Homo sapiens: one gene and its partners. The protein of the gene in region 4 interacts with the protein of the main gene of each other region in a biochemical or structural test. Each region holds a gene or a part of one and is shown on either strand. Other genes may lie near its edges. The genes, in order: ODF2, MAP2, RPTOR and MARK4.

Region 1 (7,024 bases), on a different chromosome or scaffold from region 4:
AAGGACCAGAGACATGATCCCTTCCCAACTCCCTATGACACCTCCTGGAATCTCTCTGCCTATCAGGTCTTGGTGTTAGGACAGACGCTTCTGGAATCCCTTCTTGGACTCCCAGGCTGGTGGTCAGGGATTATCACCCAGGCATTCCTCTCCAGCAGGGCCCTGAGCACCCTGGGCTTTTGTACCCCCAGCAGGGGGCTGGTGCCATGATTGCTCATTCACATATGAACACTCACCTAACACAGGCAGGAACGGCAATGAGTGTGGTGTGGGAAAAAGGCACAAATAGAAAGACGCCAACTTAGAAGCCAGCTGCCTGCCCCACCCCCAGTCCCTTCTGCTCCCTGCTGCTGCCTCAGTCACTCAGCAAGGCCATCATCAGTCAAAGAGCAGAGACTGTGGCCTCAAGAGGAGCCCTGGGGCTCACAGGTGCTTACTCCTCTATCTTGACCACAGACCCATCAAAAACCCTTTGCACAATATGTGCTCTCAGTATTGACCAATTACAGTCCACCACTGAACACTGACTAGGCCCAAGCAAACATATCAGTTTGCTGGCAACTCCAGTTTACCTGGCAAACTCCTACTCACACTTAAAAACCCAGTTCAGACTTCAAGACATCTTGTCCCTGACCCCTCCCCTGTACCATGTATGCTTCTGTCTTAGGTATCTATGTTCTCCCACTAGACAGAGAACTCCCTAAGGACAGCAGCTGGCATAGAGCCTGGCACATAGTGAGTTCTCAGAACATGTTTGCTAAGTTGAGTTGAATACAGTAAGAGACTTTCCTGACCTGGGAGATTAAATGAGCTCCCCCATGACCTATCCTTAGTCCAGGGAGTCCATGCCTCTTGTAGCCCTATCTCCTCTACAGAGTAGAGGGCAGGGAATGCATTTGTCTTCTTACTGCTGTAACCCTGGTGGCCAGCACACAGCAGCTTGGTATATGGTAGATGCTCAATATATGTTTTTCCAATAAATGAAGGAAAAAAGGAGAATGATGGAATGGTCACTATTCACAGTTCGCCAGTGGCAAGAAAGGTGTCAGCTCAGTCACTTGCAAATTGAGGCCACTTTTGCCCCCTACTCCCATGCCATACCACTGACCTACTGACTGGCAGGCACTGGCAAACAGCTGCTGTCCCTGGACAGACAACAGAGAGAAGACACTCGGGTCACCATCTGCCCCATTCCCCAATAGGAATGAGGACACCACGGTGCCCATTTCAAATGCTGTGTAGACTGAGGACAGGATCAGGCCCAGGTGATGAAGTCAGACCCACACCTCTGACCAGAAAGACCCGGCCCCTAGCCAGTGCCTGACAGTAGGGTAGGACCCCAGGACTAGGGCCAGAGCTTGCACCCCAGCTCCAACCAGAAAGCCCAGCTCAGGGCTACCCACATCACAGCCCAGTGCAGCCCCCAACCCGGAGAGTACAAACAGCAGCCACGTGGCCTTCCCTGAGCCACTAGGCCCCTCCCACCTGCACACCCAAGTCCCTCAACAGCGCCACATTCCCTCTCCTACTCTAAGACGTACTCATTCAGGACAATAATTTCCAGCTCAAGGTCTCCCTTTTCTTTTACAACTTGGTTGTAGCGGCTCCTCCAGGATTCCAGAGTGGATAAAGCTTCAGCGACATAAAGATCCTGGGAACACGGGACAAAAGGGCCTGTTAGCCTAGTGTCAGTGGTGAGGCTGCCAGGAGCTGGGAGCGGGCTCATCCTAGGTGGTTTCTCACCCTGGTAACCTAAACCTCATTCTGGAATTCACCTTTCTAGAGGGCGCTGGAAGCAACAGTGGGAGCCCAGCTAGTGCTCCCAGATTTCTAGCAATCAAATGCATCCTGTTTGTAAATCCTTCCTTAACCATTATTCTCACCCACAAAGCTGATGTGGCTGAACTCTCCTACAAAGCCTCCAATCATCTCCAGCCACCCATCCCTCCAGCTTTTACCCATTTGATCCCCTTAACTCCCTCTCCCTCCTCCCCAGCCATCTATCCTTTCCACCACTACCATCCCTCATCCACCCACCCCTCCCCGCTACCCATCTGGCTGACCACCCCTCTGCCATCACCCAGCCCTCCTCAGGGCAGGTGAGGAGCTGGGCACCGCGGGCCTGCGACCTTGTCAGCGAGTTGCACGTGTAGCTGCTCAGCATACTCCTCGCTCTTCTCGGCTCGCTCCTTCTGGGCTCGGATGGCCTTCTTCAAGCTCTCTTTGTCTCGGTCTCCCTTCTGCTTCAACTCCTTCAGCTGCTCCATGATGGCCTCCACTTCTGCCTTATGCTGATTCCCGCTGCGCTCCAGATTCTGGAAGGGGGAAGGGGTGAGAAAGAGAGGGAGAAGAGAGACAAGGAGGTTGTGGGAAGGCAAAGCAGAGGGTGAAGGAGAAAGGGAGGAAAAGGCAAGAGCAAAGAGGAAACGAGGAAGACAGAAAAAAGTGCTTAGCTGTGTGAGAGGCTCCCCTAACTCGGACCAGAGACACAGTCCCTCCCAGCTCCCCACGACACCTCCCTGGATCTCTCAGCCCATGGGGTCTTGATATTAGGTCAGAACTGCTCTGGAATCCTTCCCTGAACTCCCAGCCTTGTGGTCAGAGATAGTTCCTTGGTCACTCAGCAGAGTATGACCTCAGAGGACCCCTGGGCTACAAAGAGACCATCCCTTTCCCTTGGGTAATGAGGAGAACTGAGGGCCTAGGGGATTAAGTGATAGGCCTGGGGGGCATGGCACGCAACCCCGTCACTGTTGGGAAGGATGCCCAACACCTCCTGGGTCTCTGTCCATTGCTCTTGCCACTGTCCTGGAATGTCTCTGAGGCCTGAGTATTTTGTCATCAGCTGCCTCAGAAACCTTTGGAGGCACACTTCCTGAGTGTGATATCTGGGCCAGGCCGCTACCATCAAATTGGCAGGCCCTTGCCTCCTCTTTCCCCACTTGTGGGGCCAATAGGTACCTTAATCTGCATGCACAGGCGACTGTTCTCAGCCTCTTTGGACCGAAGCTGTGCCTGCAAATGCCCACGCATGGACTCCATGGATTTAGAAAGCTCAGAGGCTGTCTTTGCTTGAGCCTGTGGAGAGACGGAAAAAGTGATGGAGGCACAATTTTTTGTTTGTTTTTTTCATACGGAGTCTTGCTCCGTTTCCCAGGCTGGAGTGCAGTGGCGCAATCTCAGCTCACTGCAACCTCCACCTCTTGGGCTCCAGCGATTCTCCCGCCTCAGCCTCCTGAGTAGCTGGGGTTACAGTCACGTGCCATCAAAACCGGCTAGTTTTTTGTATTTTTAGTAGAGACAGGGTTTCACCATGTTGGCCAGACTGGTCTCGATCTCCTGACCTCAAGTGATCCACCTGCCTCGGCCTCCCAAAGTGCTGGGATTACAGGCGTGAGCCACCGCGCATGGTCAATAATTTTTTTTTTTTTTTTTGAGACAGGGTATCACTGTTGCCAAGGCTGGAGTGCAGTGGCGTGACCATGACTCATTGCAGCCTCAGTCTCCCAGGCTCAAGTGATCCTCCCATCTCAGCATCCAGAGTAGCTGGAACTACAGGTGCATGCCACCACACCTGGCTGATTTTTTAATTTTAATTTTAATTTTGTAGAGATGGGGTCTCCCTGTGTTGCCCAGGACAGTCTCAAACTCCTGGCCTCAATGAGTCCTCCTGCATTGGCCTCCCAAAGTGCTAGGGAGTGGCCTAGGCTGGTCTCGAAAAAGTGCCAGACATGAGCTACTGCACCCGGCCCAAAGACAGGATTTGAACCCAGCTCTCTGCATATCCATTATATTCTACTGGCTCATAAAAATGCACAACTGCGGCTGGGCGCAGTGGCTCATGCCTGTAATCCAGCACTTTGGGAGGCCGAGGCAGGCAGATCACGAGGTCAAGAGATCAAGACCATCCTGGCCAACATGGTGAAACCCCGTCTCTACTAAAAATACAAAAATTAGCTGGGCGTGGTGGCGCACGCCTGTAGTCCCAGCTACTCGGGAGGCTGAGGCAGGAGAATCACTCAAATCCGGGAGGCAGAGGTTGCAGCGAGCTGAGATCGCGCCATTGCACTCCAGCCTGGCGACAGAGCGAGACTCCGTCTAAAAAAAAAAAAAAAAAAAGCACACTACCTTCTCACATTGTATTTCCTGAAGGAGCTCTTCCACCTCCTTGTCCTTGTCTTGCAGCAGTAACAGCAGGCGCTGGGAGAGAACACAGGCTGTCAGGTGCCCCTGGGAAGGGCAAAGAGGCCCGGCCCAGGGAGGACAGAGATTTGTGAGTACCTGGCCACTGGGGCCCAAGGTCCTACATACATTGGCCCATGTCAGAGATTCTGGTAGGAAGCACCTAACATATGCATTAAAACATTTTTTTAAAACAATGAACATGTATTTATTTTGCAATTTAAGAACAGCAATGTTAACTGTAGAAAACATTGAGAACACACCAAAAAAATCCTCCAAAGAAACCCCGTAACCCCCCATGCAGAGATAACCAGTTAATGCACATTGAAACTCATATGCTCAGCACCGTTAAAAAAAAAAAGTCATATGCCTACTTCGTTCCATAGCCTAAAAGCTCATGTTTACCATAATGTGATTAAATCTTCTGTGTCTTTTGAAAGAGCTGCTTGACGGTTCAAGTTACTGATGTATATCATAACTTAACAAGGGTTCTTGAGCTGGGAATGCACATTTAGGCATTATCGCCGAGCTTGCTGCATCTCCACTCCTTCCTCAACTAAGCATCAGAGGCCACAGACCACACCTTGGGAAACTGGGCCTCCGTCTCCCTCCCCTCTCTTGGAGACTTACAAAAGCATTAATACAGCAGACACTCCAAAAAAGTCTTGAAAGAAGCTGTTGAACTTCATGTTCAGGCCAGCCTATGGTTTCCCAAATTTAACTGGCTATGGAACCTCCCCTTCGGTTTCTTGCACTCATTAACATCTTGAGGAACTTAGGGTTCCATGAACAGACTTTGGAACATGCTGCTTTGGGAGAGATTCCTAGAATTAGGATTACTGAGTCCAAAGGTGTGTACTTTTTGATGGCTTTGAATCCATAATACTAATTTGATGGAAATCCAGCTTTAACAGACACGGATGATTTACAAATCCAACATCATCATTACCCTCTCTATGTTGGTGTCCAGCTTTGTGGCTCAAGGTCTCAAGTAACTAACTAGACAAGCCTATCAGAACAAGCGTGACAGGAGGACATCAGCCCATTTTACAGATCGTGAAACTAAGACCTAGCGAAATGCTCCAGCCCTCCTGCCTTGATCCAAGCACCTCTACACTTTGTAGTGGAACGACGCTCTTGCCACCTGTACCCACTAGAGTAGACAAGGGCAGCCTTAGTTACCGCTTTCTCTGAGTCGGCCTCCGCCAGCCGTTTCAGCAGTGCTCCTTGTTGCTCCATTAGTCTTTCAGAATCCTTCAAAGAAAGGCAAAGGAAAAAGTCAAGTCATTAAGCAATAAACCCAGATGTCTACATTTTATTGATTCTTTACCTTTTCCAAAAATTGTATTTTTTTTTTTTTTTAGAGTCTTACTCTGTTGCCCAGGCTGGAGTGCAGTGGTGCAATCATGGCTCACTGCAGCCTGGTCCTTCTGGGCTCAAGCCATCCTCCCATCTCAGCCTCCAAAGTAGCTGGAACAACAAGCATGCACTACCATGCCCAACTTTTTAAACATTATTATTATTTGTAGAGTTGGAGGGTCTCCCTGTTTGCCCAGGCTGGTCTTGAACTCCTGGGTTCAAACAATCTGCCTGCTTTGGCCTCCCCAAGTGCTGGGATTACAGGTGTGAGCCACCACACCTGGCCCAAAAAACTGTAGTTCTAATTTGAAAAGTAATGTGAATATATTCTCACTATAAAATAGTGAATGCTAATAAAGCTACAGTTCCTCCTGTACCCACCTCCAAACCCTACCCTACTGCTATTAGTTTGAGGAGTATCCTTCCCATCCTTTTTCTCTACATCTACAGAGAAATACTGTATTTCTCTGTATTGAAAATACTGTACAGAATACTGTATTGAAATACTGTTTCTCTGTAATGAAACAGCATTTTGCTGCATCAAGAGAAATACTGTTTGTCTCTGGGGGAAGGGGAAAGGGATTCATGTGTAACTTTAGGAAAATAATATCATATTGTATTTATGTGTTAATTTTTTTTAATTTTTTTTATTTTTTAGAGAGGAAGTCTCGCTCTTGTCCCCCAGGCTGGAGTGCGATGGCACGATCTCGGCTCACTGCAACCTCTGCCTCCCAGGTTCAAGCGATTCTCCTGCCTCAGCCTCCCGAGTAGCTGGGATTACAGATAACTGCCACCACGCCCGGCTAATTTTTGTATTTTTAGCAGAGACAGGGTTTCACCATGTTAGCCAGGCTGGTCTCAAACTCCTGACCTCAGGTGATCTGCCCGCCTTGGCCTCCCAAAGTGCTGGGATTACAGGCGTGAGCCACCATGCCCAGCTGTTACTTGATTTTTAAAAACAGCTTTATTGAGATATAAATTTGAACACCATTTAAAGTGTACAGCATGGTGACTATAATTAATGATGTATTATATACTTGAAATCTGCTAGGAGATCTTAAGTGTTGTCACCACACACACACAAAAAGGTAACCATGTGACGTGATGGATGTGTTAATCAGCTTGATTGAGGTGGTCACTTTACAATGTATATGGGTATCAAATCATCACGATGAACATCTTAAAATGTATACTACTTCTGTTTGTCAAATATACCTCAATAAAGCTAGAAGAAAAAATAAAGTATACAATTAAATGGCTTTGGTATATTCCATTATTAACTTTTAAAAATTGTGGTAAAATATATGTAACATAAAACTTGTCATTTTAACCTTTTTATTTCTTTTAGAGACACAGTCTAGCTCTGTCACCCAAGCTGGAGTGCATGTTGTAATCATGGATCATAGCTCACTGCAACCTTGATATCCTGGACTCAAGTGATCCTCCCACCTCAGCCTCCTCAGTAGCTGGGACCACAGGTGTG
Region 2 (7,024 bases), on a different chromosome or scaffold from region 4:
TACCAAAGTGCAGGTAAGCACACCACGTAATTTTTCTATTGATTACCAATGTATCTTTGAATCACTAGTACGTAAGGAGATCCTTTAGAACAGAAGTTACAGAATAGCAATGTGAATGTTGCAAAATTTAAGAAAAAGAACACTGATTGGTTTCTGGGGTTCACATGATATATAGAAGAGGGTTCATAGAGATTTCCAAACCCTCTTCTTGTTCTGGAAGCCACTGGCATAACCATAGATATTTCGGTATTTTACATTTCAAACTGTCATGATCAGCTAACCCCTTTCCCTTTGTATCCCTTCATTTCACAATATGAATGACATACTTGTTTGATGTGAAAATGCCACATGAGAAGGGAAGAAAAATAGCTTGTCAAGAACAGAAAACACGAGAGAAAATTTAAGTTCAGTAAATACAGAACATGTTCTACACATGCACTTCCTGTATGAAATTATTACCACATCTGTTACTGTTGTTTCTCTTGCTGCTGTTTTATGCTTCTGGATTCAATTTTAAACTCCATTATCTCTAGCACATTTTGGTTGATGACTTACCTGAGGTAGCTTAGCTCTCATGATTTAAAACAATCCCTTGTGGTTTGGAAAACCATCTATGTTTGAAAATTGGGCTTAGAAGATAAAATAATCAAGCTTGTGTGTTTATTCCTCCTTAATTTTCATTCATAAAATAGAAACCCTCAGAAAAAAAATGTATCCTTATAAGCCCTCTGAATAAGTTCTAAAAAGGTATTTTTATGACAGGTACAGTTCTGACACAAACATAATAACTGTCTACAATATGCTTTATGCCATGTAGGACTAGCTAGTGAGATTTTTCAGATTCTAGGACTCATTGTTTTTAAGGAAGCAGTGAAAACGATGCCTTACTACTATCTCTGTAATATAACTCAAATTCTTGTGACATGTATAGCTTGCTTCAAACCAATGACACCTACATCTGATACATGCTTTCTCCTAAAGTATCTTAACATTAGACCAGAATAAAGGAAAATCTTCATTAGTTCAAAGATTTTAAATTTCTTTCAAAGAATGAATAAAAACACAATTTACTTTAAATGTGGCAAATTGAATACCAATGACATGTAAACACTTTACTAAACCATTTTACGTTTTCTCTAAAATTCCACAATCCTGATGACATCTTTCATCCTTTTAGGTAGGTTATAGAGTTTTTATGCTAAATCAAGAGATTCTGCTTGCCCAAGCAATTTTGCTACTAAGTTTAATGAAGCTATTAATTTGCTATTAAGTTTAATGAAGTTCTAAGTTTAATGAAGCTAAAAACCTGAGAAAATGAATTGAGGTATGTCACGTTAATTCCTAACTCCTAGCTTCAGATATATTCTTCATCCTGAAGCTTTATCAAGGTGTGCGTATATACAAGCCTTCTATTTTCAAATCCTGCCTTAGATTCTTGTTTTTGAAGGAAAGCACATGATATGATTTCTAGATGAAGAACACAAATACAAAATACTTGGAATTTTCAATGGCTAAAATAAAACCATCAGTTACCTTGATTTTCTCTTTCTCACAAAGGCTAATGTTCCTCTTAACCTTTAAAACCATCCGAAGATTTATATAGAGGCATTGATGATGTACAATGGAAAGAAAAACATTCTTTTCTGATTTAGCAATCTGTCATTTTGTAGACTACAAGCATGCCACTTAATAAATGCTAAAATAAAATATAGTGTAAGGTAAGATTATCCTAGTATAATTAAACATATAAAATAAATACTTTGCCCTGAAATTTAGAAAAAAGTTGGCATTACAGATATTTGTAGGGGTTTTTATGATGGTTTCCAACAAGTTTCATTCCTTTGTTTTACCAGTTTTATAAACTTAGGAAAAAATATGTATTTGAAGAAGAGTAATAAGTAGATAGCAGGCCGGGTGCAGTGGCTCATGCCTGTAATCCCAGCACTTTGGGAGGCTGAGGCAGGTGGATCACGAGGTCAGGAGTTCAAAACCAGCCTGGCCAAGATGGTGAAACCCCGTCTCTACTAAAAATACAAAAAAAAAAAAAATTAGCTGGGTGCACGCCTGTAATCCCAGCTACTCCGGAGGCTGAGGCAGAAGAACTGCTTGAACCCAGGAGGTGGAGGTTTCAGTGAGCCGAGGTCGTGCCACTGCACTCCAGCCTGGGCGACAGAGCGAGATTCCGTCTTGGGAAACAAAAAAAAAGTAGACAGCAAAGTAAAAATAAACCGAAGTTTATTTCTAACTGAAGTTCCTCCTAAAAGGAAGAGTTTTAGCTTCAAATTTGTGAAACTAAATTATATAGAAAAGTCGAGCAGTTTGGATCCAACATATTTAAGAAATCTCCATGACAAAATGTCAGCTAAGAGATGTAGTTCAGTAGAGTGAAAATCTTGTTAATTTTGGATATGAGGAATAAAATCTGATATAATTACCAGAAAATTTTGTTTTCTATCTTCTTTTTTTCAGCAAAAGCAAAGTAATAGTAATTTTGCAAACCACAATTTCACTTCCTGGCTTGCTTTTCATTTTCAGTATCTAAATCACTACACATTCTTGGTGGTTTTCAATAAATTCATCAACATCAGTAACAGATTTGGCAGTAACAATGTAGAAAATAGGACAAATATTTATGGGTTTAAGCATGAGAGAGATAAATAAGCAAAATAATGAGAATGCATACCACAGTTAAATTCATCGCCATCGTCTAACCAAACACACAGAATGAAAATAGGAATCCCCAGAACGTGACACTAGAGCACAATGCCAAGATACAATCACGCACTGTTATGTCTGAGCATGACAAAGAAACAGATGGTCATGACCTTTTCTGTAAGGAGGGGGGAAAAAAGAATAATGATACAAGACACTTAATAGCAAAATTGTTCATGACTGCTGAGATTCTTGGAAGAAAAACAAAATGAAGAAGCTGCTACAGTAATGAGATTTAAAAAAAAAATACATGTCTATGTTTGCCAGTCACATTGCAGAATTGAACAGTCACCTGTGGTTTTCCGCTTAACACAGGAGAGATGAGTTGGTCTAGTATATTTGATAGCAGGTTTTAAAATGAATTTCCTGGAGGGAGAGTGGGCCTGAACTTCTGTTTTTTTAGCAAGTTCAGCCTTCTTATAAACTGCTATGAATAAGAAAACACAAAAAGCATACCATCAGGAAAAAATAAACACGTGGAGCAAAACCGAACGAAATTTTATAAATAATTAGTTACCACTGTTAGGCAGTTCTGCAAAAAAGTAATAATGAATTACTTCAAAAACATTTTTAAAGAAGTGATTGTTAAATGAACCTTTTTTCCTTCTCACTTCATCTCTGGAGACTGTGCTAGGTTCCTTTTTAGCTACTTTTCTTTCAGGAGTGGAAATTCTGCCTCTCCCGGTTTTAAAAGGCTTTTCTTTTCTATGTTTCTCAAGAGATGATCTCCGAGCTTCCTTTTCAGCTTTCTCCTCTTTAGGAATAGTTTCTAACTGTTCTGTCATGATGCTCCTATCATCATCTGTGGATCAAAGCAAATCATGACAACAACAACAACAGTGAAAACATTAGTAACAAGTGTACAAAATCCTTTGTATATTTAACAAAATACAAAATAAAGAGATAAAGAGGTATTTTAAAATGTTTAAGTGAAAAAAAATTCCCATAAGGTTATTGTGTTTGAGTTAAAATAATAATAATAATAATGCACACCTTGAGTGTCCACCCAGAGGCTGTCAGCGTCCATGATGGAGTCGTCAATGGTGGTCTCATCTTTGTAATCGTCATAGGTTTCTGTCTTATATTCAGAAAGTGCAACCTCTTCTCTCTCAGGGGAAGCTGGAGCCTCTGGGGAACCATCTTTGGGTTCTGCCTGGGCTTCAGCTGCCTCTTCTACTTCAAACTCTTCTTCATCATGAGGAGATGGTCTCCTTTCCACCTCAGGCTGCTCTAGGGCTGCAAAACGCACGCTGTGGGACCCTGACTCCCCTTCATCAGTTGTGGTTTGCACTACAGTGATGAAATCATCCTCGATGGTCACAACAGACTCAATCACTCCTTTGTGTTCACTTGGGCAGGTCTCCACAAATTCCTCCCTGGCACCTGAGACACCCAGGTCAGTTATCTGAAGGGTGTCTGAGCGGAAGAGCAGTTTATCATATTCTCCCTGGGCTTCTATCTCTTCTTCCTCACTCTGAATCTCTGCTGGTTCAGATACGATCGTTTCATGCAATGGCTCTGCAACATCAGAAGGCGTGATGGATATATCTGGGGTCTCTTTGCTTTCTTCTTTTGGCCCCTGAATAAATTCCATCTGGACATCAGCTCTCTCATCTGTGGCTAAATCAGCCTCTGAAACAGCAGGTGGGCAAGGTATTTCCACTGACAATTTGACGGCAATCTCATCTTGAATTAGAGATGATTCTGGAGATGTTTCCTTCTTGCCCTCATCAGCTTTCAAGGACTCCATGGTGAGACTTTCATGCTCACCACTAGATTCATAGGACTCCTCCTTGTCTACAGCCTCCTGGTGCACCAAGTCAGGCTTGGCCACCTTCTCTTTGACTTCTGTCTCACTAACTTTAGTGCCTTCTTTCATGTGGCCAGACTCAACACCCATAAATGCATCTGCCTCCTGCGGTGCTTTGGATGAGGGGGTCATGTCCTGTGTAGCCTCAAGTTTTAGCTCTGTTGCCCTTCTATCATCTATGTTTAGCCCTGAAGCCATCTGTCCAAAGTCACTAATTTTAACATCTAGTTGACCCTGGACAGCAAAATCCAGACCTTGTTCCACCTTTTTGGATGGTTCTACCTCAGCTATCTCTGGCACTGAACTAAGACCCTTCTCTGCTTTCTCAGAGGATGCATCTGTTGGTATTGACAAATCTTTGGCCAAAGCTTGCTCATAGGTTACTCCTAATCCGAATGTTTCTATTTCATCACCAGCCTCTTCAGTTTTCTTGGCATGTTCTTTTGAATCAGCATGTTCTTCACTCTTTTCTAGTACAGTATCCAACCTATCATTAGCTTTCTTCTCTTGGTCAAACTCCTTACTCAGTCCTGATTTGTCACCAGAGATATGCGCGGATGCTTCTTTGTCAACACTGAACTCATCTTTGACTCTTCCGGCTGCTGCCAGTTTCACTTCAATCAGTGAAAGGTCTGTGGCCAAATCTCTTCGAACTTTATCATCAGTGCCTTCGTAAAAGGTACCACTCTCCCCTGATAAATTCTCACTGTCTTGAACAGGTGATGGCAATGGGACTGTGTACTTATTGAACACACAGTAGCCCAGGTCTTCGAGCTGACTGTCCGTTTTTACAATGACATGGTTTTCATCAGTTACCGGGGGCAAGCCAGTACGACTATCCTCAACCACAGTCTCTGATGGGACTGATTTCCTCCTGGCAACCTCAGCATCTGCACTCACAGAAGCCAATCTTGACCTTGTGCCTGCCAGATCTAGCATTTCAGGAAGGTCAGGTGCCATGACAGTACCATTTTTGTAAAAATCTTTGGCTAGGAAAGGAGACTCACATGATATCTCCGCTTGAGTACTTTCTTCTCCAGTAGCTTTTACTTTCTCTATCTGTTCTTCCTCTTTGCTTTCTACAGGGAAGCAAGGGGCTTTCTCCAGTGCAGGTGTGGTGGCTGGAAGGTAATCATCCCCTTCATCCATACTTCCACTAGTGTTGGTTAGAATATCGGAAGCCAGAGGAGAAAGATCATGTCCCCGACCAAAGTTAAATCCAAGGGCTATGGAATCTAGGCAAGACATCGGCAAATTGATTGACATGCTTCTTTGTTCTATTGCAGACCTACCACCAAGTCCTAAACTCCTGCTAAGGGTCAAATCATCCTTATTCTTACTGTGGAGGTCCCTTTTCTCTCCATACACTTTTGGATCAATAGTGAACATTCTTTCTTGAGGAGAACTGGGTTCTTCAGGTAAATCTGATGGATAACTCTGTGCGAGAGTGCTGTACCCTGCTTCTTGTGCTGGAGGACTGGGCTGGGATTCTTTTCCTGTTTGAAACTCCTTGTCACCATTTTTATGCATGGGAGACATGGTATCAATAGACTCATGGACACTTTCTCTAGTGTCACTCAGTTCATAGTAATCACTGCCTGGCTCAATGCTTTTTGTTGCTTCTTCTTTCAAGGCAGATGTTTCAAAGTACTTGGACATTCCTGATTTATCTTCATAAAATGGCATATCAAGCTCAGCTGATGTTGCAGCTCCAACTCCTTCAATCTTATCTTTGTCATCAACTCTCATTTCAAAAAGTTCCTGAATTGAGCTCTTTTCAATTAATGCAGATGGTTCGGTCATGGCTTTCTCCAGTGTTTTAGAGGTCATGGCTGAATCTGTAACTGCTTGCTCCAAACTTACAGGGAACGAGTCCTGTTTCAACATATCTGTGGTAGGCTCTTGGTCTTTCTGTTCTGAGAAAGTGTGCTCTGTGGAGGTCTGAATTATGCCTATTTCTTCATCTGCAGGTTTTGGGGGTTTACTCTCTTTTGGCACAGCTTCTTTGTCAGAAATGGTGGTTTTTTCTTCAAGCTTCAGCTCAGTTTCCTTTTCAGTAAGTATAGGTTCCTGTCCACTGGGGGTGAAAGTATCCCTTTGCTGCACAGTCTCTTGATTTATGGCCTCCTTTTCTTCCTCTAAAACTTTCCCCATAACATGTTCTTCTACAACTGGAATGTGAGCATCTTTGGGTAAGGTCATTGCCTCTGAGGGTGGTGCTTCTGCCATTTTGTCAGGTTTAGCCTCATGGGGCTCTTCAATTTTAAAACTATCTTTGGCAGTAGCTGGGCCACTGGTTTGTTGCAGAGATTTTTTGTCATCTGGCTGTAAAAAGGCAGGGGCAAAGGGCGATGTTTCTGTAACTATTTCATTCTTCATGACATCTAAAGGAAGAGTGAAGCTTCCCCCTTGAAAGGGACTTGGCATGGGAGAATCAAACTGTTTCCCTTCCCATTTTGGGATATCATCAAATACATCTTTTTCCCTCATGGGAGTCAGAGG
Region 3 (7,024 bases), on a different chromosome or scaffold from region 4:
AGTGGCGTGATCTTGGCTCACTGCAACCTCTGCTGCCCGAATTCAAGCAACTCTCCTGCCTCAGCCTCCCAAGTAGCTGGGATTACAGGCACCTGTCACCATGCCCGGAGGAGCCAGTTTTACTAGGCAGGTACAGACTCAATGTCTAAACCAGCCAGGTCAGGACAAGAAAAGTCACAGCCCAACCCACTCGTGAATGCCAATGGGGAGCGCCCAAAGAAATAGCTGGTGAGCGTAAGGCAGCGATGTCAGGGGACATTACCACGCTGGGTGCCCCCAGAAATGCAAGGATATTTCACAAGAAATTCAATCATGTAATTCCCTACCCTAACAAACAGCCATGCACAGGGTCATTCTGAGATGCAGAAAATACATTCAAAGAAATTAATTCCATTTATCAGGAAAATTCTTAACTAACTAGAATAGAATGGGAATTTGCACTCATAAAAAGAGTGAACCAAAGGGAAGGGAATTTCTATAAACTGATATAGAGCACCCACTCAAAAAATCTACAGCAAATGTCGTATCAAAGGTAAAAGGTTAGAAAGGTTTCGTTTACTCTCAAGAGAGAAACACAGATGTCCACTGCCATTCTTTTTTTTTTTTTTGAGATGGAGTCTTGCTCTGTTGCCAGGCTGGAGTGCAGTGGTGTGATCTCCGCTCACTGCAACCTCCGCCTCCCCGGTTCAAGTGATTCTCCTCCAGTAGCTGGGACTACAGGTGCGCACCACCACACCTGGCTAATTTTTTTATAGTAGAGACAGGGTTTCACCATGTTGGCCGGGATGGTCTTGATCTCCTGACCTCGTGATCCGCCCGTCTCGGCCTCCGCCTCCCAAAGTGCTGGGATTACAGGCGTGAGGGACCGTGCCCAGCCCACTGGCATTCTTTCTTTTTTTGCCAGCAACAGGTTTTAAAAAAGATATTACTTAAAATTACAAAAACTGAAAGGTAACGTCATGCCTGTGACCTTTATGCAGAAAGTTAGACTGTCTTGAAGACATAAAGAAGACTTAAGTAAATGGAAAGATACACCCTGTTCAGGAGCAGGAAGACTCATGATGCAAGGAAGTCAGTCATCCCAGGGAAATCCACCAATTCAGCGCCATTCAAACAACACCCCAGTGAGGCTGCTGTCGACACAGAAAGCCTGACTGTGAAATGTATACAGCAGAGCAAAGGGCTAAGAGCGGCCAAGACAGTTCTGAGAAACGAACTGAGGAGCGGGCTCAAAGGTGCTGCCCCCGCAGCTGTGGTGTGACGGCGCGGCCGTGTGGGGTGTCGGCGCGGCTGTGTGGGGTGTCGGCGCGGCCGTGGGGTGCCGGGGTGGCTATGCGGGGTGTCGGTGCGGCCGTGGGGTGTGTCGGTGCGGCCGTGGGATGTGTCGGTGCGGCCGTGTGGGGTGTCGGCATGGCCGTGGGGTGTTGGCGAGGCCGTGTGGGGTGTTGCTGCGGCCGTGGGGTGTCAGCGAGGCCGCGTGGGGTGTCGGGGCGGCTGTGTGGGGTGTCGGCGCGGCCGTGGATGGGATGGGTGCTGCTAAGAATGGAGCCCCCACTCAGACCCTAAGGACTGATGGCCAGGGAGACGCTGAGAAGCACTGGCGGGAGGACGGGCTGTCTGATGAAGGGTCTGGGGTGGCATAAAGAAAAAATACAACCTGGATCCCCACCTCACCACAGAGACAAAATGTGGTTCAGGATATACTTAAGACATGAACACAAAAAAGGAAAATTTTAAATCTTGGAAGAAAATGTAGGAGAATATGTTTAGGACATTGAGAATAGGAAAAACAAGACACAAAAGGCCCAAGTTATAAAGAAAAAGAGAAACTAAAAGATTAAGCTTGTGTGGCACCAAAGGCATCATAAAAAGTCATAGATTAGATGCATTTTCGATGGATATATTCAGCCAGGAATCAGCACCCAGAACTGTGATGAATGCTGATTACAAACTACTCAGAGAAAGATAAACGACACAAGGCGAGTCTGTAAGGCTGCAAGGCTGTAACCTCACTGCAATCAAGGCAGATGCAAATTCATGCCACAAGGAGACACCAGGTGTGTCTATCAGACAGACAAAGGCTGGCCAAGACCGGCGTGGTAGAGAGTGGCGAGATGGGGGCGCCTGCGCTTTAGAACAGAGGATCCCGTGGAAGGCCTGGGGCGACATCTACAAAAGCTGAAGGTGCAGGCACCGTTCACGCAGCAGCTTCACTCTGAGGCAAGGTGGCGAGAGGCACTCACGTGTATCCACGCTGAAGAACACGCACCACACACGTGCCCGTTTATGTGTATTGAGCACCTACTGCGTACCAGGCACTGGGTGTGGACAGGGTGGGAGGAGACAGTGGTTAACAAGGCTGGGTTCCTGCACGTGCGGCTCTCAAGCTCCAGGGGAGAGAGATGGGCCGGGCCAATGAACAAGTTACACGTACAGCACGTCTGCAGTCCACAGTCCTCAGGAGAAAAATAAAGCAGGAAAAGGGAGCAGGGTCAGAGGGCAGCTGGGGAAGCCTGATTCCAGGTGGGGCGTGGGGCTGGGGAGGCTTCTGGGAAGGTGCTGCCAGATGGGGGCTCTGAATGAGAGGGGAGCGGCCACCATATGCCGGAGAAGAGCTTCCCCACCGATGCCCAGGCTGGGGGCCGGGTAGGCTGGGGCCCAGCAGAGCTGGGTGCAGCGAGTGAGGGTGTGTTGGATGTGGGGCTCCATGGTGGCAGGGGCTGAATTCTGAGTTTGCTTATTAAGAAAAGGAACAAAAGGCAAGAAGAAACTAGAACCGGCCTCACTGTCCCCAGACAGGAGAATGGATAATGGAGTCACGGCAGATCGCGGAGGTGAAGGAACAAAACCTAGATGACCATCAAAGATACATATTGAAGTCAGAGCCAAAGAAACGGGCTTTGCGGGCCACGCATCGTGCGACGGCGCCAATAGGAGGTAAAGGCCTCTAAGTGGGCACCACGTGTGTGCCAGGGCTCATGGCCAGGGAGGGAAAGTGTAATGTCACCAGAGGGAATGGGACCGGGGTAGGGTCTGGGGCTCGACCTCTGTAATTCCTTAAGCTGGGAACACAACACACACACACACACACGCAGCGCTCTTATATAAGTCTCTGTAAATTTTTACATGGCTAAAATGCTCCTTAACATGAAAAAAATTCAAATGAAGCCGGTAAGCCACTCTGGATAGTCAGAACAAGAGGAGATGAGGCTCATTTGGTTAAGCCCTAAATCTGTTACCAGCAGTGTGAAGATGAACATAGCTACACAATAAGAAAACACGGTGAATTCCTGCTTCTCCTGTTTTACAACAGCAATCCTGGTGGTAGGACCCAGGCACACACCATTCATGGCAGAACAAGAGAAGAATCTGACCCTTCCGTCAGATTTCCATTTCCAGGCAGTGCTGCGTCAAGCTGCTGGGATGGAGGGAAAGTTGTGTGGAGATTCCGCAGGTGAGCAGGGCGGGGATGACAGCCCCCAGCCCGACCGCAGGGCCCTCCGCCTCTCACTGCGGACACTGTGTGGGGGCTGTCCTGGGCACCAGGGGATGTGAGCAGCTTCCTGGCCTCACCCACTGGGACAAGGAGCACCCCTACTGTACCCCAGTTGCTCGTGGGGGGCAAAACCACCCCCGGCTGAGAACCACCGTTCTGCATCACCAGGGTGTCCAGCACCATGAAGAACTCTCACCCGTCTATGGAACAAAGATGGAAGGTTCTGGCAGCCTTCCCACCCAGCCAAACTGGCCAGCTCCGATGGCTCCGGAGCAGCCTGTAAAATACTACCCCAACACAACAGTGATGTCAACTTTCCCGCTTGCCCCAGCAAAACGTTCTCCCTGCCTCGCAGTCCTGTTGACCTTTATTCTTTCTTTTGAACAGACAGTTTTGACACCCACTGACCTGATGCAGACACAGGTCTGTGCTGCTCTGTGTGGGGAGGAGACCCTCGGGGCCCCTCGGAAGCAGAAAGGGGCAGGCGGACTCACCGATGAGGGAGTTGAGGGAGGAGTAGGAGCTGGCGCGGCGCATCTTGTCGATGGTCTCGAAGGACAGGATATGCTCCTCATTCTCGGGGCTGCCCAGGGTGCTGCTGGCGCTGCTGCTGGTGCTGAGGTTTCCGGGGGAGAACGCCACCGCGCCACCAGCTGCCCGAGACGCAACGGGGTCAGTGGGGTGCTCCCGGGACCCTCCTTTTGGTCTTACAGTTAATGGCATGACTGAGATACATATTTTCTTCTAAATAAAGCTCAGCACACCCAGGCACAAACACACCCTGGTACACACACACCCTGGTGCGCACACACCCTGGCATGTACACACACCCGACATACACACACCCTCATACACACACACCCTGGCGCACACACCCTGGCGCGTACAGACACAACCTGGCGCGTATACACACCCAGTACACACACCCTGGCACACACACACCCTTGTACACACACACACACACCCTGGCATGCACACACCCTTGTGCACACACACCCAGCACACACACACCCTGGCGCACACACACCTGGCGCGCGCACACACCTGGCGCACACACACACCCGGCGCACACACACCCTGGTACACACGCACCCTGGCGCACACACCCTGGCACACACGCCCCGGCGCACACACAGGCACAGGCACTCACTGATCTCCCTGGGAGCCAAGCTCCCCACCCGCAGACCACAGGTTACTGGGAGACGGGGGCAGGGCACAGCCCTCCAAGGAGCCACCGCCTCAACTGCGGCTGCGCTTGAGCTCCCTGCCGCATTGGTAACGGGCCCGCTGGCTATTCTGGGGGCTGGCCTACGCCTCCTTGCCATGCTCACGTCTGGAAGGGTGACTCATCACCATGTTGGCAGATGGGACTTCAGGGCACGCACTTAGACGAAGGGGCAGGGGCAGAGTGGTGCTTACTCAGATACAGTGTTTCAGAAAAAACAACCCCAATCTCTCCCAATCCAATAACCCGATTTCCAGGATCTTACATTCCTCTGTCAAACTCAGGTTCTGCAAAGATTTGTTGAGGCTCCTGGCTGTGGCGACAGCACGGATGTTTCCATAGGAGCTCACAGAACGAAGTCTGGGGGTGCACGGGCTGTCTCGCACTGGGGTCAAACTCCCTCCCTCTGGGAAAGAAGGAGAAAGACAAATTACAATGGGCTTCCAGGTGGAGGCCAGCGTGTCTTCTGACACTCAGCAGCTGGGACACTCGGTGACGGCAGCTGCTACCTGTGCTGCAACAAATGTCAGAGCAGGGGCTGCACAGCTCAGGGAGACTCAGACGTGAGCGGAGGCTCTGCGGGATAGCACTGGACAAACAACAACCGCTTGTGGCTCTGTGCATATTAAATTACAAAAGACAACAGGGGAGAGGCTGGTGGCTGCGGCCTGTCCGAGTGCACACGAGGTGCATGGTGACGTGGGCCGTGAGCCGTGCTCCCCGGGAAGCCGCAGCAGAGCAATGACCGTCCACACTCAGTCTGGCTCACCCTTCTCCCCTCCTGGGCTTCCTAGAAGCAGTGAGGCCTCACTGCTGATGACAAGCCCCTGCACGGCAGAGACGGCTGTGTGGAAGCGGGAGGGGCTGCCGGCAGCGATGAGATAGGAACTGTACTCTCCAGTCAAAACGACACGTGTGAGAAAGCACGCCTGACATGACTCACCGAGCCACGGAGCCAAGAGCAGTGTGATGAAATTACTCATCGCAGGAAGACGGCCCCTGCGCTTTTCCGCAAGCTCCTACTGCAGAAGTTTTGTCATACTTCAAGGTCTCTGTGAGTTTAATTTCCAAAAAGGGTAAAAAGAAAGGAAAAATGTAAGAGGGTCAGTGTGGCCCTCTTTCCTGCCCTTTTAAATCTGGCAGGTGCCTAAAAAGATGAGAAAAACAGGGACCCCTTGCGGCAGGTATCTGAGAAACCTGCGCTTAGACTCTGCGAGGGTGAGCAAGACTGGGCCGCGGCCTGCACTAGAACCGCCAGGCGAGGTGCTCTGCGGGTTCACAGGAGAAGACGCCATACCTGTGGTTGCTGGAGAAGGCAAGGCGTAGTTCTTTTCCTCTTCTATGAACTGCAGGGCCACGGTGCAGAAATTGCTTTCATACTGAACCACAAGATGACTCAGAGCCACCACCAGCTCCTGCCGAGAGGGAGAAGGGACAATAACAGTCACTGGGGCTGGAAAATGATTGTGGAGCAGCAGTGAGACTTGAGTCACCAACAGAAAAAAGAAAGGTTAAGACAAAACCGTGCAATTGGCATCAGAAACAGGGACCATCCCTTTTCGAACCGTCAGAGCAGAGGCCTTGGAATAGCAGAGTGCTGGGAGACGGCAGGCCACTGGCTCACGGGGGAAGCCCAGAATGCCTGCCAGAATCCTCCCCACTGCTAGAGGCGCACGACGCATCGGGGGTCTCGTAAGGACACGGTGAGTCACAGGACTCCAGAGAGGGAAAGGTAGGAGGCCTCACAGCCTCTCGCTTACGGTGACCACTGGGACCCTGGCTGAAAACGCCGCTCTAGATCACACCCGATGGCTGGCGGCCTTTCTGAATCTGAGCGCCCCAGGGCCGAGTGCAGCGGACAAGCCGAAGCCTGCTCTTTTCAACACATGTGAAACTTTCATTGGTAGATGTTTCTAGTCCCTAAGAGGGAACGGGAAAAGTTGTAGAACTAAAACATCATCTTTAGGACCAAATGCCTTGGTCCAAGGGAACAGACACAATTTGCCTCTCTTTTAGGACAGTTCAGTGCTGTGACAGGAACAGCTGGAGATCCTAGAAGTCACTGGGGAACAGAAGGGGGATGTAGGTTTAAAAAGCGGAAAGAACGTTTTTTTCCCTACGACAACTTTTTCTGCCTTTTTTTTTTCTGAAAAGAAAAAATACGGATTCTTAGCAGAAAGCCAAGCGCTGTGAGAGGACCCCTTGCTAGTCGCGTGACGCCCCTGTCTCCACAGCGGCTGGATGAGCAGGCTCTGGATGGGCGCCCACCAGGGACCAGGGTCTTCTCGTGGCCACCCCACTCT
Region 4 (7,024 bases):
AAAATAAAAAGTATAGACTCAGCTAGCTGCTGTAATAAAAACAAAGAGATCCCAGGGTAGAGTAATTTAAATAAAAAGGACGTTTAGTCCGGAGGGTCCTCCAAGGACCCAGGTAAGTTCTTCCAGCCCCAAAATGAGTTTCCAGCTCTGGGACTGAGGCCGCTGCACCAGCAGCCATCATTTCCCAATCAGGAAGAAGTGGGGAAAGAGTAGGGGACAAGCAACAACTCTTTGTAAAGGCGTCACCCAGAGATGGTACAGAGCACTTCTGCTTATATCCCATTGGCCGGAGCATGGTCACATAACCATCTCTAGCTGCAAGAGAGTCTGGGAAATGTAGTCTCTGGCTGGGTGGCCATGTGCAGTGCTCATACTCTTAGGGGTTTGGTTACCAAGAACGAAACAGGGAGGATGGATTCTAAGGGAGAAGTAACAGCCTCTGCCACAATCAGGATTCTTCTCTGAGATCCAGGCTGGGCCTGGAGTCCCTGGGAGGATAGAAATTGGAGGTCTGGGCTGGGCGCAGTGGCTCACACCTGGAATCCCAGCACTTTGGGAGGCCAAGGCCAGTGGATCACCTGAGGTGAGGAGTTTGAGACCAGCCTGGCCAACATGGTGAAACCCCATCTCTCCTGAAAATACATAAACTACCCAGGCGTGGTGCTGCATGCCTATAGTCCCAGCTACTCAGGAGGCTGAGGCAGGAGAATCACTTGAACCCAGGAGGCAGAGGTTGCAGTAGCCAAGATTGCCCCATGGCCCTTCAGCCTAGGTGACAGAGTGAGACTCTGTCTCAAAAAAAAAAAAAAAAAAAATTAGCCAGGCATGGTGGCACACGCTTGTAATCCCAGCTACTCAGGAGGGTGAGGCAGGAGAATTGAACTCAGGAGATGGAGGTCTGGCCCCTGCTGTCGACTAGGAGGGTCCGAGGGGCTGGAGGAGGGTCCTGGGACAGTGGAACCCCCACTGCCCAGATTACCATAGTGAATACAGGTATCCTTGACCTTTACATCTATCCCTTTCCTGATTTTAGATGGTGAGAGTTCAGATAGCAAAGTGTTTGCCAAGTTGATTTGGTTCCTGAGGTTTCGGCAAATAGCAAGGAAGTCACCCAAAAATGTCTGTGCATCTATTCAGTTGCTGCGTTTAGAGAGAGGAGAGTTGTGATAGGAGATGATTTGGAGCGGGTAGAGTTTGAAGAAGGGACAGTTTGAAGGAGGGGTAATAGGAGAGGAGAGAGTCAGTAAAATAATGCTAGGATTGTATAGTGCACAGCCTGCACAACTGTACGTTGCAGCCCTGTCTCTGAGTTCCAGGCTGGTTGCAGTCCCTGGTCTCAGGACAGGAATGTGAAGAATCAAAGGGACTGGGGCCCTGGCCTGCCTCAGTCCCCCACCCTGACTTGTCTGTCTCTGCCCACAGCTCAGGCACCCCACGGGTGCCCCCTGCCTCCCCCTCCAGTCACAGCCTGGCACCCCCATCAGGGGAGCGGAGCCGCCTGGCACGTGGTTCCACCATCCGCAGCACCTTCCATGGTGGCCAGGTCCGGGACCGGCGGGCAGGGGGTGGGGGTGGTGGGGGTGTGCAGAATGGGCCCCCTGCCTCTCCCACACTGGCCCATGAGGCTGCACCCCTGCCCGCCGGGCGGCCCCGCCCCACCACCAACCTCTTCACCAAGCTGACCTCCAAACTGACCCGAAGGTGAGCTCCGCGGGGATGGCAGGGGCAGGGCGGGGCGGGGGGCCGATGGGACCTAACCTGTCTTCCACTCTGCTCTGTCTCCTGTACCCCAACATTTCCTCTTCCTCCTCCTCCTCCTCCTCGTTTCCTCCTCCTCCTCCTCCTTTCCTCCTCCCCTGTCACCCCTCACCTCCCTCCTCACACTGCAGGGTTACCCTCGATCCCTCTAAACGGCAGAACTCTAACCGCTGTGTTTCGGGCGCCTCTCTGCCCCAGGGATCCAAGATCAGTAAGTCCCGTCCATGCCCTGTTCTCGCTGGCTCTGCCTCCCTGCCTGCATGTCTGACCTGTGTGTGCGGGCATTGGGAGGGGGCTCTGTGGATGTGAGGGTCTGTGCGTGGGGTCTGGTTGTTCATTTACTCACAGAAGCACAGCCTATGGAGCCAGACTCGGGGGTTCAAATGGCAGCTCTGCCAAGTGACCTTGAGCAAGTCACTCAAGGTCTCTGGGCCTGGTTTTCCTCTTCTGTAAAATGGGTATAGTAATAACAATACCTGTCTCCTAGGGTTATTGTGAGGACTAAATGAAGTGACGTATGGACTGAGCGTAGAACATTGCCTTGGAAAGTGCTTTACATGTGTATTAGTTATTAATTGCTATTATTCATTGAGCCCCTACTGTGTGCCTGGCACTGTCCTAGGCCCTGTAGTAGAGGGTGAGCAAAATGTACAAAACTCCTGCCCTGGCAGACCCAACATTCTACTAAGGGATCTAGACAAAAAACAAAGAAATAAGTAAAATATACTTACTATATAGACTGCTAGGTAGTGCGAAGTAACTAAGAAGAAAAATAGAGTAGGAGCCAAATTTGGTGGCTTATGCTTGTAATCACAGCACTTTGGGAGGCTGAGGCGAGGGGATCACTTGAGCCCAGAAGTTCAAGACCAGCCTGGACAACGTAGCAAGATCCTATCTCTACAAAAAAGTAAATAAATTGGCCGGGCGTGGTGACTGCACCTGTATTCCCATGGAATTGGGAGGCCGAGGCAGGAGGATCACTTGAACGCAGGAGGTCAAGGCTGCTGTGAGCTATGATCATCAGTCTTGGCAACAGAGGGAGAACCTGTCTCTAAAAAAAAAAAAAAAAAAAAAAAAAATTGAACAGGGAGGGGAATAAGGGGTGTGGGGAAGGGATGGGGTGCAGCATTAAATGGGCAGGCCTCTGGATGAGGTGGCTCAGGCCAGCAATCCCAGCACTTTGGACAGATGACTTGAGTCCAGGAGTTTGAGACCAGCCTGGGCAATGTGGCAAAGCCCCATCTCTACAAAACAAAACAAAAAACAAAAAGCAGATGTGGCACGCGCCTGTAGTCCCAGCTACTTCAGGGGCCAAGGCAGGAAGATTGCTTGAGCCTGGGAGGTTGAGGCTGCAGCGAGCTGAGATCACGCCACTCCTGCATGACAGAGTGAGACTCTGTCTCAAAAAAAGAAAAAAGGGCAGGCCTCACGAAGGAGGTGTTGTTTGAGCAAAGCATGAATGTATATGTGAGCGAGGGAGTGTGTGTGTGTGCACACGTGCGTGTGTCTCTCTCTTTCTCTCTGTGGCCACTTATCTATGTAAGGGTGTGTCTCTGCCCACTCCCCTCCCTTTCATCTTCCACATTCTTCAGTATCTTTCCTGTGACCTGCACTAACCATTTCAGAATGAGCCCCGTTATGGGGATGGACAAGGAGATCAAATCCTGACTCCAGGCCCTCACCAGCCCGGAGGGACTGGGGTTGAGGCAGGGGCTGCTTGGAGTCCCAGAGGCAGTGGGTTGCGGGAGGTGGGTTCCCTATGTCCAGATTAGACACTCTGTCCCCCTCCCCTCCCCTAGGGTCGCAGACGAACCTGAGAGAATCGGGGGACCTGAGGTCACAAGGTGAGTGCTTGGGCCTACCCCTGACTGCCACTTCCCCTCTCCTGCCTCAGCACCTCCCGACACTTACCCCAGGGCATTAGATGGGGCCCCAGTCTCATCCTGCAAGGCCAACTTCCTGAAATGCCCTGTGGCCCCAGCCTTCTCTGCCAGCTCCTCTCATTCCCACCCAACCCCAAGCACCTTCCCTTGATCATCTTAAACTTCAGCCTCCGGCTGGGTGCCATGGCCCAAGCCTGTAATCCCAGCACTTTGGGAGTCCAAGGGAGGCAGATCACCTGAGGTCGGGAGTTTGAGACCAGCCTAAGATGGAGAAACCCCGTCGTTACTAAAAATACAAAAATTAGCCGGGCGTAGTGGCGCATGCCTGTAATCCCAACTACTCGGGAGGCTGAGGCAGGAGAATCGCTTGAACCCGGGAGGCAGAGGTTGCGGTGAGCTGGATTGTGCCATCGCACTCCAGCCTGGGTAGCAAGAGTGAAACTCCGTCTGAAAAAAAAAAAAAAAAAAAAAAAAAAGCCTCATCCCATCCACAACTCAACTCCTCTTCTGGTCAATGCCCCCACCTCCTTTTGCCTCTCATCCAGTCATGGCACAATGTTTGCTGGCAGCTCAGGGCCAGCAGGAGGCAAACATCTGTACGGACCCAGATCATGAAGATTTTAGGCTTTGAGGGCCAGGCACCCTGTGTCACGCCTGTTCAGTTGTGCCATTGTAGTGCAAAAGCAGTCATATTCAACACAAAACAAATGGGTATGGCAGTGTTCCAATGAAACTTTATTTACAAAAGCAGACAGCACTGGAGTTTGCCAAGCCCTGGTTTTGTCTGAGTTCCCGGTTTAGAGACCCAAGTGGAAACCGGAGCCTTCCCAGCAGCTGCAACAAACTGCCAGGGCTGACTCTCATTGGTTGGGACTTGGTCACATGCTCATTCCTAAACCAATGCCTGCAGCCAGAGAGGAGAAGTACTCTGGTTGGTCAGACCTGGTCATGTGGTCACCCTTGACCCAAGCACAGTGGCCGGGAAGTAGAATGCTATCATTGGCAGAGCTGAGTCGTGCTCACCCAAGCTGAGGGGCGGCCCCACCGGAACAAGGGAGGCTAGTCCTGGGATGCTCATGTAGAGCAGCACTCTCGTACTTCAGGCGGGACGTTTCTTTGTTGTGCAGGGCCCTCTTGCACATTGGAGAATGTTTTTCATTCCTGACCTACCCCATCCCCAACCTAGTCAGTGCCAGCAGTGCTCCCATCCTAAGACATGTGACAATCAAAAAGCCCCCAGAGGCCGAGCACAGTGGCTTATGCCTGTAATTCCAACAACTCAGGAGGCCAAGGCAGGAGGATCACTTGAGCCCAGGAGGTCGAGGCTGCAGTGAGCTGTGATTGCACTACTGCATTGCAAGACCCTGTCTCAAAAAAACTAAGAAGTGGCCGGGCACTGTGGCTCTCGCCTGTAATCCCAGCACTTTGGGAGGCCAAGGCAGGTGGATCACCTGAGGCCGGGAGTTTAAGACCTGCCTGCCCAACATGGTGAGACTCCGTCTCTACTAAAAATACAAAAATTAGCTGGCCGTGGTGCCTGTTCTCCCAGCTACTTGGGAAGCTGAGGCAGGAGAATTGCTTGAACCCGGGAAGCAGAGGTTGCAGTGGGCCAAGATTGTGTCATTGCCTTCCAGCCTGGGCGACAAGAGCGAAACTCTGTCTCAAAAAAAAAAAAAAAAAAAAAAGCCGGGCGCAGTGGCTCACACCTGTAATCCCAGCACTTTGGGAGGTCGAGGCGGGCAGATCACAAGGTCAGGAGATCGAGACCATCCTGGCTGACACGGTGAAACCGTGTCTCTACTAAAAATACAAAAATTAGCTGGGGCCAGGCGTGGTGGCGCGTGCCTGTAATCCCAACTACTCAGGAGGCTATGGCAGGAGAATCGCTTCAACCCAGGAGGCGGAGGTTGTGGTGAGCCGAGATCGTTCCATTGCACTCCAGCCTGGGTAACAAGAGCAAAACTCCGTCTCAAAAAAAAAAAAAAAAAGAAAAGGAAAAAGAAATTTCTCATTCAAACATTCAAACCATGTGGCCAAGCCAGGCTGGTAAGGCCACTGTGATCTATGCGGTCATTCAGGTCCCCAGGTTATTGCATCCCGATTCCCTGGAGCCCTTGTCATCTTCACAGTTGAGGCTGGCCTGTGCCACTGCTAAGTCCAGCTCCTGGGAGATGTGGGACAGGAGAGCCTGGCACATGCAGGTTCTTTGAAGGAACTGATGTGGATGGCACATCTCACTTCTGCTCATGTCCCAGAATTTACAGACAAGGTCACACCTGGTTGCAAGGGAGGCTGGAAAGTGTGGTCTCTAGCTGGGCAGCTCTGTATCCAGTTGAAACTGTCGCTGGGGTAACAGGGGAAGATGTTTTTTGAGGGGATGGCTAGGAATGTGTCCCGAATTGGGAAGAGTTGTCCCTTCAGCCCTCCACCACATTCCTCTTCGCTCCCATCTCTGACCCCTGACATCTTCTCGCCTCAGTTGCCATCTACCTTGGGATCAAACGGAAACCGCCCCCCGGCTGCTCCGATTCCCCTGGAGTGTGAAGCTGACCAGCTCGCGCCCTCCTGAGGCCCTGATGGCAGCTCTGCGCCAGGCCACAGCAGCCGCCCGCTGCCGCTGCCGCCAGCCACAGCCGTTCCTGCTGGCCTGCCTGCACGGGGGTGCGGGCGGGCCCGAGCCCCTGTCCCACTTCGAAGTGGAGGTCTGCCAGCTGCCCCGGCCAGGCTTGCGGGGAGTTCTCTTCCGCCGTGTGGCGGGCACCGCCCTGGCCTTCCGCACCCTCGTCACCCGCATCTCCAACGACCTCGAGCTCTGAGCCACCACGGTCCCAGGGCCCTTACTCTTCCTCTCCCTTGTCGCCTTCACTTCTACAGGAGGGGAAGGGGCCAGGGAGGGGATTCTCCCTTTATCATCACCTCAGTTTCCCTGAATTATATTTGGGGGCAAAGATTGTCCCCTCTGCTGTTCTCTGGGGCCGCTCAGCACAGAAGAAGGATGAGGGGGCTCAGCGGGGGGAGCTGGCACCTTCCTGGAGCCTCCAGCCAGTCCTGTCCTCCCTCGCCCTACCAAGAGGGCACCTGAGGAGACTTTGGGGACAGGGCAGGGGCAGGGAGGGAAACTGAGGAAATCTTCCATTCCTCCCAACAGCTCAAAATTAGGCCTTGGGCAGGGGCAGGGAGAGCTGCTGAGCCTAAAGACTGGAGAATCTGGGGGACTGGGAGTGGGGGTCAGAGAGGCAGATTCCTTCCCCTCCCGTCCCCTCACGCTCAAACCCCCACTTCCTGCCCCAGGCTGGCGCGGGGCACTTTGTACAAATCCTTGTAAATACCCCACACCCTCCCCTCTGCAAAGGTCTCTTGAGGAGCTGCCGCTGTCACCTACG

The links.
Region 1: of the proteins of MARK4 (region 4) and ODF2, one has a biochemical effect on the other in vitro, tested with the Homo sapiens proteins (one study listed by BioGRID).
Region 2: of the proteins of MARK4 (region 4) and MAP2, one has a biochemical effect on the other in vitro, tested with the Homo sapiens proteins (one study listed by BioGRID).
Region 3: of the proteins of MARK4 (region 4) and RPTOR, one has a biochemical effect on the other in vitro, tested with the Homo sapiens proteins (one study listed by BioGRID).

What each region holds. Positions count from the first base shown.
Region 1 is NC_000009.12:128,479,992-128,487,015, reverse strand, and holds part of ODF2 (outer dense fiber protein 2), read right to left. Parts: intron 6,804-7,024; exon of another isoform or gene 6,200-6,803; intron 5,437-6,199; coding exon 5,365-5,436; intron 4,201-5,364; coding exon 4,129-4,200; intron 3,079-4,128; coding exon 2,962-3,078; intron 2,316-2,961; coding exon 2,130-2,315; intron 1,652-2,129; coding exon 1,542-1,651; intron 1-1,541. UniProt on the Homo sapiens protein: Seems to be a major component of sperm tail outer dense fibers (ODF).
Region 2 is NC_000002.12:209,693,032-209,700,055, reverse strand, and holds part of MAP2 (microtubule-associated protein 2), read right to left. Parts: coding exon 3,706-7,024; intron 3,515-3,705; coding exon 3,308-3,514; intron 3,140-3,307; coding exon 3,005-3,139; intron 1-3,004. UniProt on the Homo sapiens protein: The exact function of MAP2 is unknown but MAPs may stabilize the microtubules against depolymerization. They also seem to have a stiffening effect on microtubules.
Region 3 is NC_000017.11:80,890,832-80,897,855, reverse strand, and holds part of RPTOR (regulatory-associated protein of mTOR), read right to left. Parts: exon of another isoform or gene 6,137-7,024; coding exon 6,019-6,136; exon of another isoform or gene 5,685-6,018; intron 5,128-5,684; coding exon 4,987-5,127; intron 4,150-4,986; coding exon 3,991-4,149; intron 1-3,990. UniProt on the Homo sapiens protein: Component of the mechanistic target of rapamycin complex 1 (mTORC1), an evolutionarily conserved central nutrient sensor that stimulates anabolic reactions and macromolecule biosynthesis to promote cellular biomass generation and growth.
Region 4 is NC_000019.10:45,296,254-45,303,277, forward strand, and holds part of MARK4 (MAP/microtubule affinity-regulating kinase 4), read left to right. Parts: intron 1-1,422; coding exon 1,423-1,701; intron 1,702-1,889; coding exon of another isoform or gene 1,890-1,969; intron 1,970-3,557; coding exon 3,558-3,602; intron 3,603-6,120; coding exon 6,121-6,457; 3' UTR 6,458-7,024. UniProt on the Homo sapiens protein: Serine/threonine-protein kinase. Phosphorylates the microtubule-associated protein MAPT/TAU. Also phosphorylates the microtubule-associated proteins MAP2 and MAP4.